Homo sapiens: one gene and its partner. The protein of the gene in region 2 purifies or fractionates together with the protein of the main gene of each other region. This does not show direct contact. Each region holds a gene or a part of one and is shown on either strand. Other genes may lie near its edges.

Region 1 (3,600 bases), on a different chromosome or scaffold from region 2:
AAAAGACAATATAGAGCCAATAAATAGCTTATGTTATTTTAATATACATTCCTCTGGCCAGGCCAGCCAAGGTGGGAGGCTCCCTTCCGGCCAGGAGTTCAAGACCAGGCTGGGCAACACAGCAAGACTCTGTCTCTATTTGTAAAATTCTTGGTAAACAATTTAGAAACTGCCCCTTCTTTTCCTTTAAAAACCCATTTGTAACTGCTGCTAATTAGAGTGTATATTAAGGCAACTTGCATCTCCAAGGTTGCAGTTCGCAAACTTGGCCCAAATAAACTGTATTTTTTTTTAGTTTTTTATTTTTTGTGAGACGGAATCTCCCTCTGTCACCCAGGCTGGAGTGCAGTGGCACAATCTCGGCTCACTGCAACCTCCACCTCCCGGATTCAAGCGATTCTTGTGCCTCAGCCTCCCGAGTAGCTGGGATTACAGGCACCCATCACCATGTCCGGCTAATTTTATTCATTTTTTATTTTTTGTAGAAACGGGGGCAGGACGGGTCTCACCACGTTGCCCAGGCTGGTTGCAAACTCCTGACCTCAAGCAATCCTCCGGCGGAGGCCTCCCAAAGCACTGGAATTACAGGCCTGAGGCACTGCGCCCAGCCCAACCTCTCCACCTATATTAATTTTACCTCTGCTTCTTCTTTTCTTTTCTTTTCTTTTTTTTTTTAAGACGGAGTCTCGCCCAGGCTGCAGTGCGATCTCGGCTAACTGCAACCTCTGCCTCCCGGGTTCAAGCAATTCCCCAGCCTCAGCCTCCCGAGTAGCTGGGATTACAGGCACGCCCACCATACCCGGATAGTTTTTGTATTTTTAGTAGAGACGGGATTTCACCATGTTGGCCAGGTTGGTCTCCAACTCCTGACTTCAGGTGATCTGCCCGCCTCTGCCTCCGAAGTGATGGGATTACAGACGTGAGCCACAGAAACCCACTCACTTTTTCCTTTCAGATCACAAAAGTGATCGAATCCCGCCACTTCCCGGGTGCTGGGTGGGAAGGTGGGGTGATTGCTGTGCTGCTGTGACTTGGGTAGATGCCGTGAAGGCCTCTCAAAGGCGGCCATGTTTGCAAAGATCTGAATAAGGCACCTCCAGAGGAACCGGTCTGGGGCAACTGGGGAGGAGGCAGCGGCACAAGTTCGTGGTCAAGCCACTGCAAGGCTGGGAGCTTACTTACAAAGCAATGTTCCTCCACCTATAAAGACGCAGTAGCTGCTCCATCCCCGGTCAGAGGACCCCCGGAAACGTCTCAGCCCACGCACTGCCCTCTGACCCCACTGCCTTCCCGCCAGTCCTGCATCCAGTCAGAGGGCCCTCTCTGAGCCTGCTGCCTTCCCGCCAATCCTGCATCCAATCAGAGGGCGTCCCCACTACGTGGTTTGCACAACGGCCAATCAAAACTAGGATCCGAGCCTTGGCCCGCCTCCCAGGACGTCCGGACCAATGGTGGCCTGGCACCAGCAGGCCAATCCCAGACAGCGCACGGCGGGAGGCTGTCGTTGGGCGTGCGCAGCTGCAGCGGCGGTTGAGGTCAAGTAGTAGCGTTGGGCTGCGGCAGCGGAGGAGCTCAACATGGTAAGGCCAGGTCACTCCCACCCCGCAGACGCCCAGGCTGGAGGGTGGACGAAGTTGGCCTCCTGAGGTGGCTGGATGGAGGGATGCTGTTGCGGGCCAGGGTGCAGAAAGGAGGTCAGAGAAGGATGCGGGGCCCAGGGCGGGACACGAGGACACGGCATCGTCTGCTGGGTCTGCGGGCTCCAGGGCAGGGATGGCAGCTTTTGTTTTAGACGAAGCTGCCGGCCTTGAGTCAGTGGACGGGGAGCATTGACCGTGTCCTGTCCCCCAGAGAGCAAACAGTGGTGCCGCCTCCTGAAGACAGAAGGGCGCTGCTCCCGCTTTCCGGTCTCCAAATGTCTCTGTCCTATTGGAAACCACTGAGGAGCCCCAGGAGCCTTGTTGATGGAGGCAAGGGCTGTGGACATTGGTCAGATCAGGAATTAAAGCTCAGACGGGAGTTGGAGGCGGGGAATCCCCTGAGGTCAGGGGCTCCTCACTAGCCTGGCCAATATGGCGAAATCCCTTCTCTACTAAAAATAGAAAAATTCCCGGGGTGGAGGCGTGGATCTGTGGTTCCAGCTACTCGGGAGGCTGAGGTGGGAGGGTCAGCTGAGCCCAGGACTTCGAGGCCGCAGTGAGTCATGATGGTGCCACTGCACTCCAGCTTGTGCGACAGAGAGAGACCCTGCCTCAAAAAAAAAAAAAAGCAACCAACGCATTCACATAAAGAATAGATTTCTAAGTCCCAAGTCTGAATAGCAGTGGCCGTGGTTTGTCAAGTATCTTTTTTTTTTTTTTTTTGAAACGGCTCAACAACAGCTCTGTTGCCCAGGCTGGAGCACAGTTGCACGATCACGGCTCCCTGCAGCCTTGAACCCCTGGGCTCCAGCAATCCTCCTGCCTCAGCCTCCTGAGTAGCTGGGACTACAGGTGTGTGCTGCCACAGCTGGCTAATGTTTAAATTTTTCGGCCGGGCGCTGTGGCTCACGCCTGTAATCCCAGCACTTTGGGAGGCCAAGGCGGGCATATCAAAAGGTCAGGAGATCGAGACCATCCTGGCTAACACGGTGAAACCCCATCTCTACTAAAAATACAAAAAATTAGTTGGGCATAGTGGCCTGTAGTCCCAGCTACGTGGGAGACTGAGGCAGGAGAATTGCTTGAACCCGGGAGGCAGAGGCTGCAGTGAGCTGAGATTGTGCCACTGCATTCCAGCCTGGGTGACAGAGCAAGACTCTGTTTAAAAAAAAAAAATTTTTTTTCATAGTTGCCCAGGCTGGTCTCAAACTGGTCCCAAGCGATCTCAGCTCAGCCTCCCAAAGTGCTGGAATTACAGGCATGAGCCACCACATCCGGCTTGTCAGGGCTTAAAGAAACCACCAAGGACAGTGCAGTGTCCCAGCACTGATGACATCTGGGAGCCATTACACTCCTAGGCTTCAAGGGGTAGAGGGGAGGGAGTGCTTACGAAAAATTGAGAGGGTAACTTTATGAAGAGGGCCACCTGCCAAAAGTGTGGCCTTGATGGAGGGATTTGTATCGCCCATGAAAGGTGAGCAGGAAGGGGCCAAGGGGAGAGTACCCTGACGCCACTCTCCTCCAGCCTCCTGGTCTCCTGCGGCTGCCTGTCATTGAACAAACCAGCACGAAGCCAGAGAGCAAGGAAGGCCTCTGATGCTGTCCTCATGGGTCAGCCTCGGAGAGCACAGGGCGGGTGGTGAATGATGGAGGGTAGATCTGGGGGTGCAGAGAGAGGACACATACTGAACACCTGGGCTTGGACCACAGTGACCTGGGACCTACTCTCTATTTCCTTACCCAACCCCATTACCTTATCCTTTGGTAGGACATAATCAAAAACTGCTATGTATTCTTCAGAGAATTACTGTGACTGGCTATAATGTGGGTTTGATTACTGACATTACATGGCTTCCAAGTTTTAAAATAATCTAATTTTTGTGTAGTGGCAAACATTAGGTTCTAGGGCTACCTCTGGAACTTAGCAGCTGGGATGGTGTAGAGCAAGTAAGTTTTCACA
Region 2 (2,772 bases):
CCATGAGGAGAGGGCAGGAATCAGTGCCACCAGGTCTTGGTATCTCCTCTGAGGTGGGGCTTAGGTATGGGGATAAGCAGGGAAAGGATGTGTGGGGGGCATGAACTTGGGGTCCTAGGAGAGAATCTGATCATGGAAAGATCTATCCCCATCATGGCAGGGCTGTGTGACCTTTGAGGACGTGGCCATTTACTTCTCCCAGGAAGAATGGGGGCTCCTTGATGAGGCTCAGAGGCTCCTGTACCGCGATGTGATGCTGGAGAACTTTGCACTTATAACTGCGCTGGGTAAGGCCCTCACACCCACTCTCGTGTCCTGGTCTTCGTCTATCCTCTTTTTCCTCAGAGGCAGCTCTGCCGGACCGTGGGCTTTGCTGACTTCCCCACTGTCTTGGCGTATGTGCTGTGGTGTAAGGAATGAAATCATTGCACTCCTTAATCAGCCCTGACATTTGCTGTCCCAAAATGCACAGGGATGGGTCTGGCTGTTAGGTGTCTTGAGTCAGCCTAATGCATCTCCGTTTACTTCTTCACTTCCTCTTTGGGTGGCTGTGTCCATATTCATGGTACTTTGTGTCTCAAATTCTGCCTCCTAGATGACATTTCCTTTGACTACCTGTGTTAGGAATTTGCAGAATTTTCCTCATCAGTATTTACATGGACCATGAGCTGTGGTTGCCAGAACCTCCTTCAAGGATCTGTGTGATATTAATTTTCTTTCTTGTGTTCTCAAGGCTGCTGACTTGCTCTGGGCCACTGCAGGATACTCACCTGTCCCAGCTTTCCCTTAGGACTTGCTTCATTCAGGTCCCAAGTAGTGGCACATCTAGAGGTGGTGGGAAAGCCCTGGTTGTTGGAAAGGGTGAAGATGGGAATATGGCTTCAGAGGAAGCCTGGCCTCAGTCAGTGGCACCTGGGTGAGGACATGGCATCCAGCCTGTTTTCTAATCTTACCAGGAATTTGCCCTGTGTCATCCAGAGTTTGGTGCTAATGCCACTGGACACATCTCATTTCTATGTTTTCTTCCTCTTCCTTGACACTTTGCTGGCTTATTGCTTCATCTGGGACATCCGGCCTCGTGCTGCCCCCATCTTCCTGCCCTCCATGTGTCACCAGTTTCTCTGCACTGCCCCCCAGCATGTTTTCCAACACTGACCCACTCACGATATGTTGTGAGTTGTGCACATGCCAATTAAATATTTCTTGAACACAAGATCGCAATTGGAATCTCCCACTCACTTCCAATTGCATTATCTTGGGCCCGAATAATGCCAGCTTTCAGCACAGCATACACGTGCCACCAGCTGACAAGATCTTGCCACAGGATTTGGCAAAAGAATAGATTGGAGACCCTGCCTCTCCTTGTGTACTGTACCCCATTCTTACGTCCTGTGTTTGGTGAGGCCTCCCCATTTTGTGATCTTTAGAGGCCCACTACTGCCAAGCAGCCTCTTTCTTATCCTGCTTTCAGTTCCTCAATATTGCTTCAAAGCAATACTGTGAATTCATTCCTTGATGTATATGTGAAGGTGCTTCCCATTTCCTGTTATGTACCCACAGGATTTTAATTAATGGAGGTAGTAGAGTGCCAATACAGAGAGGTTAATGTCAGTGACATAGGAATTTATCACCTGCAGTAGCAAGAGCATGTGAACACCATGCCATGCAGGGCCACATGAGGAAGTGCTCAGTGGTCAGAAGGTAGAAGCAAGAGAGGAGGGAAAATATTAAGCCACAGCCTTTATTGGGGTTTCTGCAGGTAACACAAGACATAATAAACAGTTTAGGATTGGGTAATTTGAGTAGTTTGCTTTGGGGCAAAGGGGCTCACTAGGCGTAGTTGTCTCCTGCCTGACCTTGGGATGACTAGAGCAGAGGAATATTAGCTCCTGAAGCATCCAAGTCACATAGAAAATGTGATTGGGAGTATGGGCTCTGGATTGATGGTGTATTTGTTATGCTCCTTGCTGAGCCCTTTGCTATCTCTTTAAGAGTTGGCTCACTCTGGAAGCACCATTCTCTCCCCAGCCAGCAATGTTTTTTATTTTGTTTTGTTTTGTTTTGTTTTTGAGACAGTTTCGCTTTGTCTCCCAGGCTGGAGTGCAGTGGTGCGATCTGGGCTCACTGCAACCTCTGCCTCCCGGATTCAAGCAATTCTTGTGCCTCAGCCTCTTGAGTAGCACCCACCACCACGCCTGGATAATTTTTTGTATTTTTAGTAGAGCCAGGGTTTCACCATATTGCCCAGACTGGTCTCAAACTCCTGAGCTCAGGCCAGCAAAGTTTTTAAGATGTCAGAACACCAATTATTCAGAAAATAGTTTTTTAAATGACTAATACACTCCCATCATAGTCAACGTGCATTTCATCAGTGTTTCTCTGCTTTCAGTTTGTTGGCATGGGATGGAGGATGAAGAGACACCTGAGCAAAGTGTTTCTGTAGAAGGAGTACCTCAGGTCAGGACTCCAGAGGCCAGTCCATCCACCCAGAAGATTCAATCCTGTGACATGTGTGTCCCATTCCTGACCGACATTTTGCACCTGACCGATTTGCCTGGGCAGGAACTATACTTGACTGGGGCATGTGCGGTCTTTCACCAGGACCAGAAGCATCATAGTGCAGAGAAACCCTTGGAAAGTGACATGGACAAGGCCTCATTTGTGCAGTGCTGCCTGTTCCATGAGTCAGGAATGCCTTTCACCAGCAGTGAGGTTGGGAAGGACTTCCTAGCCCCATTGGGCATTCTTCAGCCGCAAGCTATTGCTAACTAT

What was found.
Region 1: the proteins of ZNF416 (region 2) and TUBA3C purify together in Homo sapiens (affinity purification with mass spectrometry, with the first as the bait; 2 studies listed by BioGRID). This does not show direct contact.

Annotation. Positions count from the first base shown.
Region 1 is NC_000013.11:19,179,725-19,183,324, reverse strand, and holds the start of TUBA3C (tubulin alpha-3C chain), read left to right. Parts: upstream 1-1,500; 5' UTR 1,501-1,577; coding exon 1,578-1,580; intron 1,581-3,600. UniProt on the Homo sapiens protein: Tubulin is the major constituent of microtubules, a cylinder consisting of laterally associated linear protofilaments composed of alpha- and beta-tubulin heterodimers.
Region 2 is NC_000019.10:57,573,319-57,576,090, reverse strand, and holds part of ZNF416 (zinc finger protein 416), read left to right. Parts: intron 1-160; coding exon 161-287; intron 288-2,389; coding exon 2,390-2,772. UniProt on the Homo sapiens protein: May be involved in transcriptional regulation.